2 linked regions of the Homo sapiens genome follow. The protein of the gene in region 2 binds, or shares a complex with, the protein of the main gene of each other region. Each region holds a gene or a part of one and is shown on either strand. Other genes may lie near its edges. A codon is read from its position in the direction of its gene.

Region 1 (8,027 bases), about 170 Mb from region 2:
CCTGTAGTTGTAGCTACTCAGGAGGCTGAAATGGGAGGATCACTTGAGCCCAGCAGTTGTAGGTTAAGTGAGCTATGATCACGCCACTGCACTCCAACCTGGGCAACAGGGCAAGACCCGGTCTCAAAAATAAACACAGGAAAAAATATATAGATCAGCAAGATACACAATAACAAAACTATAACTATTCCAGCCATTTATCAAGCAAAGAATTAGGGAAAAAACTTTTTCAGCTTTGTGATGTCCCAAAAAATCTAATTCAAAGGATTAGTGGCAAAACAAGCTGATATGTAGGATTTTTGGTTAAACCATTTTCCCCTTACAAAACAGAGAATAATGTGTGTTCCCTGTTTGTATGCCAAAGTCAGCAGTATCTGAAGAACTGCTGGATGGCAAGATTATGCATATTCATAACCATACACCTGACATAATACGTGGAAAGATCTAAAAGATTTTATCTGATTTGAGTAATTCCAGTTCTTTTTATATTTCAATCCTGGAAAGCATAAGCCACATTGGCCAGGGTAAAATATAATCAGATTGGTTAAAGAGGATGTGAGGCCTGATCCTAATAGAAATGTTTGAAAGGGTTCAGGCATGGTGGCTCATGCCAGTAATCCCAGCACTTTGGGAGGCCAAGGTGGGAGGATCACTTGTGGTCAGGAGTTTGAGACCAGCCTGGCCAACATGGCGAAACCCTGTCTCTAAAAATACAAAAATTAGTCGGGTGTGGTGGCACATGCCTGCGATACTAGTACTCAGGAGGCTGAAGCAGGACAATCGCTTGAACCTAAAAGGCGGAGGTTGCTGTGAGCCGAGATTGCACCACTGCACTTCTGCCTGGGCAACAGAAAAAGACCCTATCTCAAAAAAAAATAAAAAATAAAAAAAGAAATGTTTGAAAGGAATATGACAGCAAAATAAATAAATAGTTATCAGTTTATCTCAATCTTGGAGCTAAGGAGAAGAGAAAATCTTAACACAACAGACTATTCTAAGCAATATAACATTTATACTGAGTACTATAGCAGCACTGCCCCAAAAAGCATTAATTCTGCTTCAGTTTATCAAAAATGGCTTAACAAGAGAAAACAGTGATGGACCATGAAGAACTAGAGTTCCATTAGGAAGGAAGCAACAAGCTATGTCAGTATTATGTGTATTTCTACTAAACATTTATCATCCCCTGACATATCCCATAGGGATGGGCACAGACAGTGCTCAAGTATTGAATGTTCTGCTATTTTCTTATGGTATCACTTAATTCACATTGATAGAATAATCTCAAAAATAACAAGTTTGGCCAATGAATAGCAATAGACCAAAGTTTTTAGCTGGGTTTCTAAAAAATTCAGGAAAACTGATCAGAATTCTGATTTTCCTGTCTGAGGGCATCTTATACTGAAGTTACCAATAAATAAGTATCAAAGCTATACTATCAATATCCCCAAATGAATAACATCCTGAATGAACAAAAACAGCACAACTTTATATTTTCTACTTACTTTGCAAAAGGTTATATTTGAGATAGTCTAAAGACAAAATAATAAAGCCTAGGAATACTAAGAGAGCATTTAAATCCTAAATACCTAAAATGGTATACTAATATTAAAGTCATTGACAATTCATTAGCATGTTTGATAAATAGCAGAAAGCTGGACTTCAGGTCCTCTGGGTGACCCAACTATTCAAAGCCATTCACATTCTGGTCCTAATCCAACCTTTCCAGATTCATTTATTTCTTCTCTACTTGCACCCTCTGTTCCTGCTACAGTGGACTACTACTCAAACACACCTTTCACGATTCAATACCTTGTTACAAGATGTTCTCAGGCTCAGATGTCCTTCCCGATTTAAAACTGACTGATCCTTTTAAAACACGGTCATGTAACCTCCTCAGTGAAACAACCCTAAACATAATCATTCCGTTACCCAGGTTCCCAGAACATGCTGCTTTTTCTTCTACTTAAGCATGCATCTGGCCTCATGAGAGAATGAGAACATACACATCTGTTTCTCCTATCAGACTGTAAAATTTTGGATGGCCTCAGTCTCTTACCTCTCACAGACTAATACCGAGCCAAATACCCAGAAAGAACATATGAAACAAAAGTGACTTAGAAGTCTCGTTCTCAGTGAAAATCTCGGATTCCAAGTCAGAAATCAAAGAATGCAGTTCCAACTTCTCATGCCTCGTCTTTTCTGAAAAGTGATCCCATTTTCTGTCATCTCTGGATACTTCCTAATGAACTCCAGTCTATTCCCAACGTTTTCCTAATTTGCACACTCTGTATTCCATAAAACGATCAACTAGCTTGAAAGCTTCGGCCATTAATGAAAGTAATTTATGTTTTCCTCTTCCATCTGCTCCTCCAATAACCAGTCTCCAAAGAAAAAGATCAATATTATACTAAAAGTGACTAAGGGAGGGAAAACAACTACCAGATTTTATCCCCAAATCGTTTCGTGCAAGAAAAATAAACAAGTAACTGACGCTTGAAGACACACAAGGGTAGGAGTAACGGAATCTCGGTTTAACCAAATTCGATTCAGTCTGCCGGAAAAGCGGCTGCCGTATTTCAGTGCTTTTCTGACCCTCTTCTGCACAAACTATGGGGACGACAGTGTCGAGAGGCGAGTGAGACCTTCTCCCCACGCCCGCTTCCCCGATCCCTTGCCCACGAATCCTACTGAGGAAGCCGCTTAAACGAGGCCCTCTGGTCAGAGAAGAGAAGCTACTCTGAAGTAGCAGGTCCCAAACACTGAACAAAGCGCCTGTCGGGGGTGTAAGAGGAGGACGCCATTACGCGGGGCAGTGGCCTGCGCCGCTGGCGCGGAGGAGACGACCCTTGGCCCCGAAACGCGGGCTCAGCTCCTACGAAAGAAACCATAGAAAAAGGCAGAATCCTAGGAAAAAAGGCTTTTATTAGGCTAGCAACGAAGAAAACACGTAAGCAGGGAAAGACCGCTTACCTTCGTGAGTCTTGGCGATCTTCGCCATTTTGTCCACTCGAACACACAGACGGAACTGGCGCTCCCAAGAACTTCCGCTCGTCGCCGCCGCCACGGAGAAAAATAGCTGGGGGCTGCACTCTGCGCGTGCGCCAAACGGGAGCGCGCTCCGTCGGGTGACACGTGACAGAACTGCCACCTAGAGGGAACCGCGAGGTGCATTGTGGGTGGGGGAGGAGACACGGTTGGGCCCTGAAGTCGCCTGCGTGGTGACCCAGGAAATCCCCGAGCCGAGCCGTAAGGTCCTTAAGTGAGTAACTTTGCCCTGGAGGAAAGTGGATTCTACGAAGGGAGTTAAGAACAGACACTGAGTCCCAGCAACTCTGGAGGCTGAGGCGGGAGCATCGCTTGAGCCCAGGAGTTCGAGGCAGCCGTGAGCCGTAATCGTGTCGCGCCACTGTACTCAAGCCTCCAGACCGGGCGACAGAGCAAGACCCCGAGACCCCTCCCATTAAAAAAAAATGAACACTGTACGAAACGCTGCGGTTTCAGAGCTGGAAGAGACCTCAGACATTCAATCCCTTTTCCCAAAATTCACTGGAAGAGCTCGAGGAAAACTTTCCCTTGCAGCTGTCTCAGTCTTTACAGTGCTTAGTTACGAAGACAGTCTTAACAGTCCCATCTTTCGCCCTGTAATTCAAGGTCATTTTTCATTCTTTCTGTTTAATAATTGCAAATAATTTGGGTAGGAATTTCGTTGAGCCTCACAAATCGTTGCTGAGTTGCACAGTGACAATCTTGCCACCCTTTTAAAGCCTTTTACTTTATGGGTTCCTAGAAAACCACTCATCGTCATTATTAACATTCATTAGATGTTTCTCTTAAATCCTAGACGGTATTCCTAAATCAGGAATTTTAATAGATCAGAATACGGCAGTCTGTTTTCCTGGGCATCAATTATAATATAACCTTGTACTGTCACACTGGTCTTTGACTTCGACGATGAAAAAGAAAGAAAGGCTCAGAAAGATGGGTCCCGGAAGCAGCCGAGGAAAACAGGTAGTTATCAAGGTTAGAGCCATCACAAAGAGAGGAGTACCTCGCTATGTGATAAACCTGCAACCCAAATACTAACCATACCATGGGTCAGTATGGTCGTTTGAAGGGAGGGAAATGGTATGGGTGTATTCCTCTTGCAGGAAGACCCCATATCTACTTTGGGTAAAGTGAGGAGCCATTTTCCTGAGGCTAGCGGTAGGTGGGAGATATATGGACAATGGCACTGGACTGAGAGCTTAGATAACCTGTCCCTGGTGACTCCTGACCTGCAGCCTTGCTCCCTCTTTCCCTCTCACCAGACTCCCTCCCTTCTTCAGATCAGGTGACACAAACGATTTTTTTTCTGTTTTTTTGACACACAGTCTTGGTTTGTTGCCCAAGCTGGAGGGCAGTGGTGCGATCACAGCTGACCCTAACTTCGACCTTAAGGTTCAAGAGACTCTCCTGCCTCAGTCTCCAGAGTAGCTAGTACCACCAACATGGGCCACCATACCCAGCTAATTTTTATTTTTTGTAGAATGAGATCTTACTATATTCCCCAGGCTGGTCTCAAACTCTTGGCCTCAAGCAGTCCTCCTGCCTCAGACTCCTAAAGTGCTGGGATTATAGGCGTGAGCCACCACAGATTTTTATTAGCATCAGTAAAGGAATAAATTTGATAAATTAAAATTTTTGGCCAGGCGTGGTGGCTCATGCCTGTAATCCCAGCACTTTGGGAGGCTGAGGCAGGCGGATCACAAGGTCAGGAGTTCAAAACTAGCCTGACCAACACAGTGAAACCCCATCTCTACTAAAAATACAAAAATTAGCCGGGCATGGTGGCACCTGCCTATAATCCCAGCTACTCAGGAGGCTGAGGCAAGAGAATCGCTTGAACCCAGGAGGCGGAGTTTGCAGTGAGCGGAGATAGTGCCACTGCACTCCAGCCTGGGCAACAGAGCGAGACTCCGTCTCAAAAAAAAAAAAGAAAAAAAGATGTGATGGTTAATTTTAAGTGTCAACTTGACTGGATTAAGGAATACCTAGAAACCTGGTAAAGCTATTTTGTGGTGTGTCTGTATGGGTGTTTCCAGAGATTAGCGTGTGAGTACAAGTGGGCTAGGTGGGGAAGATCGGCCCTCCGTGTGGCCAGGTACCATCCAGTCTGCTGGGGACCCCAGGAAGAACAGAAGCAGAGAAAAGGTGAAAATGTCAATTTATGTGCGAAGGCTGGCTACATCCAATCTTCCTCTATTGTTGTTTTTGGACAACGACCCCAAGCTGCTCAGCCTTTGGAATCCTGGATTTACACCAGCAGCACCCTATCCCCACCCCTTCCTCCTGGTTCTCAGGCCTTTGTCCTTGGACTGAGTTACATCATTGTCTTCGCTGATTCTAAACCTTGGGACTTGGACTGAGCTACCAGCATCTCAGGGCCTCTAGTTTGCAGATGGCCTGTCAAGGGACTTAGTCTCCAAAATTGCAGGAGCCAGTTTCCCTAATAAATCCCAATGTGATAGTTCTTATCCCACAGGCCCACTTTAGTTCAGTTTAGTTTTGCTTTGTTTTTAGAAATGGGGTCTTGCTCTGTTGCCCCAGCTGTAGTGCAGTGGCTCACTCCAGCCTCAAACTCCTGGGCTCTGGCGATCCTCCCAACTCAGCCTCCTGAGTAGCTAGGATTACAGGTGCACACCACCATGCCCAGCTACTTTTTAATTTTTTTTTTTTGAGACAGAGTCTTACTCTTTCACCCAAGCTGGAGTGCAGTGGCGTAATCTCAGCTCACTGTAACCTCTGCCTCCCTAGTAGCTGGGACCACAGATGTGTGCCACTACACCCAGCTAATTTTTTATTTTCAGTAGAGACAGGGCTTTGCCATGTTGGCCAAGCTGGTCTTGAACTCCTGGCCTCAAGTGACCCACCCACATCGACCTCCCAAAGTGCTGGGATTACAGGCGTGAGCCATCTCACCTGCCTACTTTTTAAATTTTTTGTAGAGACAGGGTCTTGCTATATTGCCCAGGCTAATCTCGAACACCTAGCCTCAAGCGATCTTCCCATCTGGGCCTCTCAAAGTGCTGGGATTACAGGCAGGAGCCCCTTAACCAACTTCGAGAACTTGGGAAATAAGATGTGGTGGGTTCTTGCCACCGTGAGCCAAACCTGGGTCAGAACTTCATGTGTGATCTGGCCCCTACATACACCCACTCTGATAGGATATTATGACACTTTGGATAACAATGTCGATTTGGACCTTGTGTCCCACAGGTCTTAAAATATTTGGTTATTCCACTTTTCCCAGTGTATAGTTACCAGAGCAAATGATAGTTCCCTTTGGAGAAGTATTAAGGGATCATTAACAAATACTAACAAAAAAAAGGAAAACAAAACAAACACTGTGGTGTTACACAGTCCTTCCTGGGGACCTAGCTTCTGCTTCAATTAGATGACCTGAACTCATTTCTAGATCTGAAAACTACCTTAGGTCTGGAAACTAGCTGAAGATCACTTTTTTTTTTAAATTGGGACAAGTGCCTTCAGCCTCCTAATGATTCATGTTTTATTTCTCTTGGTTGCACAGATTGAGCAGTACCCTTGTAGGCTGCCCATCAATCTTGCCTCTAAGGATACCCAGTTGTATGAATCATATATTTCTGCAGGTCAACCATTCTGACCTTATGCTAATTGTGACAATTGTGCCCACCTTGCTGCTGACAGTTAAGCATCACTAAAGTAGGAAATAGGGTCCAAACCGACACTACTTAAGGAGGGCAAGTAGTGATGGGACCTCATCATCCCATTGCTATCATGGAGCTCATCACTGTCACTGCATCTGCTGCTTTCACCTAAGGTCTGTAAAAGACAGCCACATTGGTGACAGTACCAAGCTGAGCTGTATCAGTGAAGTCAGAGGCAAACGGAAAAAGCAGTAATAGTGATTCTTTTTTTTCTGTTGTGTTTTTTGTTTTTTTTTTTTGAGACGGAGTCTTGCTCTGTTCCCCAGGCTAGAGTGCAGTGGCACGACCTTGGCTCGCTGCAACCTCTGCCTCCTGGGTTCAAGTGATTCTCCTGCCTCAGCCTCCCAAGTAGCTGGGACTACAGGCACATGCCACCACGCCCGGCTAATTTTTGTATTTTTAGTAGAGACGGGGTTTCACCATATTGGCCAGGCTGGTCTTGAACTCCTGACTTCGTGATTCAACCACCTCGGCCTCCTGAAGTGCTGGGATTACAGGCATGAGCCACTGCGCCCAGCCTAGGGCCATGCTACTCTTAATACTAATTCCTAGGTGGAGTGTGGTGGCTCACATCTATAATCCCAACAATTTGGGAGGCTGAGGTGCAGGGATTGCTTGAGACCAGGAGTTGGAGACCAACCTGGGCAACATAATGAGACTTTGTCTCAATTAAAATAAAAATCAGTCCTGGAGCTGTGGCTCACGCCTGTAATCCCAGCACTTTGGGAGGCCGAGGCGGGTGGATCACCTGAGGTCGGGAGTTTGAGACCAGCCTGACCAACATGGAGAAACCCCATCTCTACTAAAGATACAAAATTAGCCGGGTATGGTGGCACATGCCTGTAATCCCAGCTACTCGGGAGGCTGAGGCAGGAGAATTGCTTAAACCTGAGAGGCAGACGTTGCAGTGAGCCAAGATGGTACCATTGCACTCCAGCCTGGGCAACAAGAGCAAAACTCCATCTCAAAAAAATAAAATAATAAAATAAAATAAAAATCAGGTCAGGCGCGGTGGCTCACACCTGTAATCCCAGCACTTTGGGAGGCCAAGGTGGGTGGATCACTTGAGGTCAGGAGTTCAAGACCAGCCTGGCCAACATGGTGAAACTGTGTCTCTACTAAAAATGTAAAAATTAGCCAGGCATGGTGGCAGGCACCTGTAATCCCAGCTACTCGGGAGATTGAGGCACAAGAATTGCTTGAACCCGGGAGGCGGAGGTTGCAGTGAGCCGGGAGCATGCCACTGCACTCCAGCCTGGGCGAGCGAGACTCAGTCTCAAAACAAATAAATTAATTAAT
Region 2 (6,516 bases):
CTTTCAATTGAAGATGTAAAAGTATAGAGGAAAACATCTAATTACAAGCATTCACGTTTTAATTTAATATAAAGATTGGGGTTCATACCTTCAAGTGATATTTACTGGACATCTACTGAATACCATTAACCATAATAAGTGCTTTTATTTGGATCAACAAAACTATAGCCCTGAGAGTAAAGTACCTTTCTATCTTACAGTGCTTAGTGGTAAAATCTTCTGACTCTAAATTGAACCTCTACATTACACAGTACCATAGCCTCTGACACCCGAACTCATATGAAAGGGCTAGTGACTTAAGAGTCCATCTGAAAGGATTTCTAAAGTTTTTATTTTAAAAAAATTATTATTTTACCACAGTAATGACTACGTATAAAGTTTTTATTTCTAGTCGGAATTCCGTCTTGTATGACTTGAGAGCTCCTTCCTGGCTTTAGGACTATGAGGTCTTGAGGACCCTCCTTTTGAATGACACTGTCCCTCCAGAGAGTAAACCAAGAGCTGGAAATACATGATCATTGGTACTCAGATGGGGATGAAAGTGAAAGTGTTATAGACCAGCTGTCCTTTTTAGGAGGTCTCAGTCCTTTGAGCATCTGATAAAAGCTTTAGACTCCTTCCACAGAAGAATACACTCATGTTGCATATATTTCAGGGGATACATGGACTCTAGGTCAAGAAACCCTGCTCTAGATACAGAATGGTATACAAGGCCAGGAGTTCAAGACCTGCCTGGCCAACATGGCGAATCCCTGCCTTGGGGATCAGGAGACAAGATTCTACTTCAGGCCTTGTTACTAGCCATGTGTGTGACTAGTTGCCTAGCTTTTTTGGTTTTCTCTTCATGTATGAGATAATCTGGGTGGTGGCCTTTTAGCTTTTAATGTGGAAACAGCATAGATTGGTTGTAAGGCCTGGGTTCAAATACTGGCTTGCCTACTCTTACGAAACTGGAGAAAATATTTAACCTTATCTGGGTTTCAATTATCTATGAAATACAGTCTTCCTAACCTACTGTCTTAAAAGAATTTTAATTTGGATGAAATTACACAGTGTCTGTGAAGGTACTTTATCAGTTTTCCTTCCCAGTGTACATTAGCCACTCTTCTGCTCCCATAGCATTTCCATGTGTCTCTCCTAGGTTAACACATGGTTTTGCTGTTGTCTCTATATTCATCTGTCACCCTGGGCAGGTTGTGAGTTCCTCCAGGGCTCGTACCATATATTATTTTTGTTTTTGTGTTGATAGCACTTGTGCGATACATGGTAAGCACCCGATGTATACTAAATGAATAATATAGAAAATAGTAGAATAGGCCAGATGTGGTGGCTCACACCTGTAATCCCGGCACTTTGGGAGGCCGAGACAGGCAGATCACCAGAGGTTAGGAGTTCGAGACCACCCTGGCCAAATGGTGAAACCCCCTCTCTAAAAAAAAATACAAAAATTAGCTGGGCATGGTGGCACGCGCCTGTAATGCAATTACTCAGGAGGCTCAAGTGGGAGAATCGCTTGAACCTGGGAGGCTGAGGCTGCAGTGAGTGAGCCGAGATCATGCCACTGCACTCCAGTCTGGGCGACAGAGTGAGATCCTGTTTCAACAAAAGAAAAGAAAATAGAAGAATAATATAAAAAGTGGTTGTGATTGGTTTACTAGGGCATTATAAAATTTATTGATAGTACTCAATTAAGGGATGCTTAAAATCAGTGAAGTTAGAGAATGTTTCAGAAAGCCAAAATGAAAGGACAGGGAATAAAGCAGGGGCATCTTCAGAAGAGTGCAGAGCAGCTCAGAACCTTTGTGCTTCTATTTTCCTTGTATCTGGAATGGTTTTCACCAGCTCATCTCATGCCTGGCTCCTCCTCATTCTTCAGGTCTCAGCTTCAGTGTCACCTTTTCAGAGGGGTTTTCCCTGACCACCCTAGCTGAAGTAGCTCCCTGTTTCCCTATCTGTTACAGCTTTCTACTTCTTGTATGAAACATTTCTTTTTTTAAGATGGAGTTTCGCTCTTGTTGCCCAGGCTGGAGTGCAATGGCACGATCTCGGCTCACTGCAAACTCCGCCTCCCAGGTTCAAGTGGTTCTCCAGCCTCAGCCTCCTGAGTTGCTGAGATTACAGGCACCCACCAGCATGCCTGGCTAATTTTTGTATTTTTAGTAGAGATGGGGTTTCACCACGTTGGCCAGGCTGGTCTTGAACTCCTGACCTCAGGTGATCCTCCCACCTCGGCTTCCCAAAGTGCTGGGATTACAAGCATGAGCCACCGTGCCAAGCCGAAACATTTCTTAAGATTTATAATTATTTCAGGGCTGGGCGCAGTGGCTCACGCCTGTAATGCCAGCACTTTGGAAGGCTGAAGTGGGCAGATCACAAGGTCAGGAGTTTGAGAACAGCCTGACCAACATGGTGAAACCTCGTCTCTACTAAAAATACAAAACTTAGCCAGGCGTGGTGGTGCATGCCTATAATCCCAGCTACTCAGGAGGCTGAGGCAGGAGAGCCGCTTGAACCCGGGAGGTGGAGGTTGCAGTGAGCCAAGATCATGCCACTGTACTCCAGCCTGGGCGACAGAGTGCGACTCCGTCTCAAAAAGAAAAAAAAAAGATTTATAATGATTTCATATTTATTTAATGTCTTTCTACTGCCTGAATATAAGCTTGAAGGAAGGGATGATGCTTATCTTTTTCACTATTGTATTTCTAGTGCCTGTCGCAGAAAGAACATAGTCTATGTGTTGAATAGGTTAATAGAAGTTTAGGGTACAGGAGCTTAGGTCTAAATTATAGATTGAGAAACAGCTGTTTTTCTGTTCCATTACTGTGATCATGCTTTATTGTATACCTGGCACCTGGCACTAGGGTGACCAACCTTCCCAGTTTGCCCAGTACTGAGAGATTTTCTGGGACACTGGACTTTCAGTGCTAAAACCTGGACAGTCCCAGTCAAATCAGGATGATTTGGTTTGACCCTACCTGGCATGTAGCAGGCACTTGGTACTTTGTACTTTTTAAAACTCTTTGATACTTGTTACCTCTTTTGATTATTAAACCCACGTGGAAGGTAGGGCACGTGATAGAGCCTGATGGCACTGGATACATGAAGCATCCGAAGCTCACAGAGGCTAAGTTACACGCTTAGGTGTTCTTATTCCTACTCTAAGATTTTAATGCCAGTCAAGAAAATTGTAGCACTTTGGGAGGCTGAGGTGGGTGGATCACTTGAGGCCAGGAGTTCGAGACCTGCCTGGCCAACATGGCAAAACCCCATCTCTACTAAAAATACAAAAATTAGTCGGGCATGGTGGCGCACACCTGCACAAGAATTGGTTGACTCTGTCTCAAAAAAATAAGAAAATAATGTTAGCTCAGTGTCCAATACGTGGTAGGTACAGATACATGCTTTTAAAAGTTCAAATTATAATATGGCTCTCAAGGTGTGAGGTTGATAATTAGGGCTGGGACACTTAAGATGGAGAGTCTTTAAAGTGGGGTTAGTGTCTATCCCTATTCTAGTTCCTAAGAAGATATAAGAGGAAGAAAGAGAGTTGCTTTGTTTAGTTTTGTTTTGAGCTTCCTGAACAAAGTGTGTGTGAGAGAACTGATAGAAGAAAGTAGATCTCCACTTTTCAAAGGCGTATTAGCGTCTGCCTTATGCGTGGCACTAAAGGAATAAATGAAGTACGCATAAGATCACCTTTGCTCTTAAGGAACTGAAAATCTTATTAAGTTTTTAGAAGTCAAAAGTCTGAAAGTTGTTAAGACTTGCCAGAGCCTAAAGAACATTCTAAAACCCCTCGTCAGGCCCACACAACCTGACAAAGTGAGCGCATTCATTGACAGTGGCACCCTCCAATCACCCCCAGTACCCTATTCCTTTTCAATTTTACAGGAAGCACAAGCTTGAACAGGGCCCAGACTATAGTCCTATCCTAGATCAAGTCTAGGCAGGTACCTCCTCTTCCCATGGCTCCACTGCTTTTATTCAACCCTATGTAAGGACTGTGGCAGATGGAGAGTCAGCCCACAGTCTTAAACCTCATTCCACAGTTGCACTGGGTGGTTGGAACACAGATGGAGGCAAGGGGGCCATCTTGTCACCCAGAGCCTGAACTGAGTGGGACCTCTACCCATTGTCTCCACTAACAGTCACATGGCCACCTGCTGCCTGCAATTTAGCGTTGCGTTGCTCCTCAAACTTCTCTACCTCTCCCAGAGGAAGTTGGTGAGGTGAAGGAAGGAAGTGGCCAGGAATAACTACACTAACAGCAACCTCGTATCCATAAGTAAGGTTAGCTTCCACTTCCAGCCACCTTCCAGCATTCTGCCCTGGCTCACTGATAACCCTATCCACAAGCACACTTCCACTCCCATCTTTGCAGAAGCCTAGCCCTTCTCCCTAGCCACACAGCTGTATCGTGCATTAGCACTTGAGTTGTATTAAAAATGAATGTAGACCGGGTGTGGTGGCTCATGCCTGTAATTCCAACACCTTGGGAGGCTGAGGCAGGCGGATCACTTGAAGTCAGGAGTTTAAGACCAGCCTGGGGAACATGATGAAACCCTGTCTCTACTAAAAATACAAAAATTAGCTGGGCATGGTGGCACATGCCTCCAGTCCCAGCTACTTGGGAGGCTGAGACACAAGAATCACTTGAACTTGAGAGGCAGAGGTTGCAATGAGCTGAGATTGTGCCACTGCACTCCAGCCTAGGCAACAGAGTGAGAGTCTATCTCAAAAAAACAAAAACAAAAACAAAAACAAAACAAAACAAAGACAACGTAGAGCCAGTCAGGGTGGCAAGAGCACCTGTAGTCCCCACAACTCACGAGGCTGTTCTGTGTAGTAGCTGTGTTCTTAGTATTCCTGATGTGACAGTCAGCTTGACCTATGGATATTTTAGTTAAGATAAAAACGAAGAACAAAATTACCTAATTCAAGAAATTACAGGCTTATCCGGTATATCTATCCATGTTTATTTCCTCTGATGGTTTCAGGTTGATTTCAAAATACTTAACTAAAAACGTATTTCAATTTACTGTTTTTAAAAGACAGTTACCAGTTTAAAAGACAGTTCTGTAAGTCAACTATCAATGCTCAGGTAAATGTATATCTTAATTAAGTTTAACTTACCTCTCCAGGGGGAACACACCTGAAACTAGAGGAACAGCTTATGTGGTCTATGAGGACATCTTTGATGCCAAGAATGCATGTGATCACCTATCGGGATTCAATGTTTGTAACAGATACCTTGTGGTTTTGTACTATAATGCCAACAGGGTAAGTATAGCAAAGTTCTCATTGTGTAGTGATCTCATTTGAGAATTAGTGTAGAACTGGCCGGGCGCGGTGGCTCATGCCTGTAATCCCAGCATTTTGGGAGGCCGAGGTGGGCGGATCACGAGGTCAGGAGATCGAGACCATCCTGGCTAACACGGTGAAACCCCGTCTGTACTAAAAATACAAAAAATTAGCCGGGCGTGGTGGCGGGCGCCTGTAGTCCCAGCTACTCGGGAGGCTGAGGCAGGAGAATGGCGTGAACCCCAGGGGGTGGAGCCTGCAGTGAGCCAAGATCACGCCACTGCACTCCAGCCTGGGCAACAGAGAGACTCCGTCTCAAGAGAATTAGTGTAGAACTGTACTGTGATGATATATGTCTACTATGACTTTCTTTTTTGGCTAATGCTATTGATGAAATTCATTTGGCTGTAGATTGGTAATTTAATTTTGGTGCTTACCACATTTCCAGGCATTTCAGAAGATGGACACAAAGAAGAAGGAGGAACAGTTGAAGCTTCTCAAGGAGAAATATGGCATCAACACAGATCCACCAAAATAAATGTTTTCTACATTTTCATTTGGACTAAATCCCACGAATGACAACTACCACCTTTTTTTCCTTTTTAATTAATACTAAATATTGTGATTTCTTATTTGAGGTTCAAAATGACCTGCTTGAAACTTTGATACATATTGGAATACATTATGTTAATAAACTTGTAGCTTTTTGTGAAACACCTCAGTCTTTTCTCTTGAACTTTCCCTTCCTGTTTGATACCAGGAAAAAACAGTTGAAGCTTATCAAGAATTGTAGGTGCTCCTAGGGATTCTGAGTTTCTTGAGAACAGGATCTCTTTACATTCTTAATGCCTCCAGGGCCCGGTGCAGTGCTTAGCCATCAAAGGAACTTGCTGTTTATTGCATGTCCATTAATAATGAAATCTTCATAACAACTCAGTGAAGATAGGTATTTGCATTTTGCAGGTGAGGAAACCAAAGTTCATGATGTTGGTTGAATGAATAAAATGCTAACATACAAAGCTGGTGTGATAACAACCAGTTATTAACCAAGCCTTTACATTTGAATAATGCTTGCTTTATAGTTAACAAAACACCTGTGTCAATATGGGTACCCTTGTCTTTAGAACAGAGGTCTATTATAGAAATGGTCATTTAGATGATAGTACATTGTTAGAAACTTAGATTTGCCTCTTTAAATTGTTTTTTAATTATTAT

Evidence for each region.
Region 1: the proteins of SF3B6 (region 2) and SF3B1 are in contact, whole or in part, in a crystal structure (PDB 2F9J), measured with the Homo sapiens proteins. Residues at the interface, in NP_057131.1 of Homo sapiens: Arg12, Leu13, Pro14, Pro15, Glu16, Val17, Arg19, Ile20, Ala32, Met35, Tyr36, Arg46, Gln47, Ile48, Arg49, Val50, Gly51 (codon at 5,143), Asn52 (codon at 5,146), Thr53 (codon at 5,149), Thr56 (codon at 5,158), Thr59 (codon at 5,167), Ala60 (codon at 5,170), Tyr61 (codon at 5,173), Val63 (codon at 5,179), Glu65 (codon at 5,185), Asp66 (codon at 5,188), Ile67 (codon at 5,191), Phe68 (codon at 5,194), Tyr92 (codon at 5,266), Ala97 (codon at 5,750); in NP_036565.2 of Homo sapiens: Trp388, Ile392, Arg395, Asn396, Arg397, Pro398, Leu399, Ser400, Asp401, Glu402, Glu403, Leu404, Asp405, Ala406, Met407, Phe408, Pro409, Glu410, Gly411, Tyr412, Lys413, Val414, Leu415.

What each region holds. Positions count from the first base shown.
Region 1 is NC_000002.12:197,431,999-197,440,025, forward strand, and holds the start of SF3B1 (splicing factor 3B subunit 1), read right to left. Parts: upstream 3,031-8,027; 5' UTR 3,002-3,030; coding exon 2,974-3,001; intron 1-2,973. UniProt on the Homo sapiens protein: Component of the 17S U2 SnRNP complex of the spliceosome, a large ribonucleoprotein complex that removes introns from transcribed pre-mRNAs.
Region 2 is NC_000002.12:24,067,085-24,073,600, reverse strand, and holds the end of SF3B6 (splicing factor 3B subunit 6), read left to right. Parts: intron 1-5,141; coding exon 5,142-5,280; intron 5,281-5,749; coding exon 5,750-5,839; 3' UTR 5,840-6,015; downstream 6,016-6,516.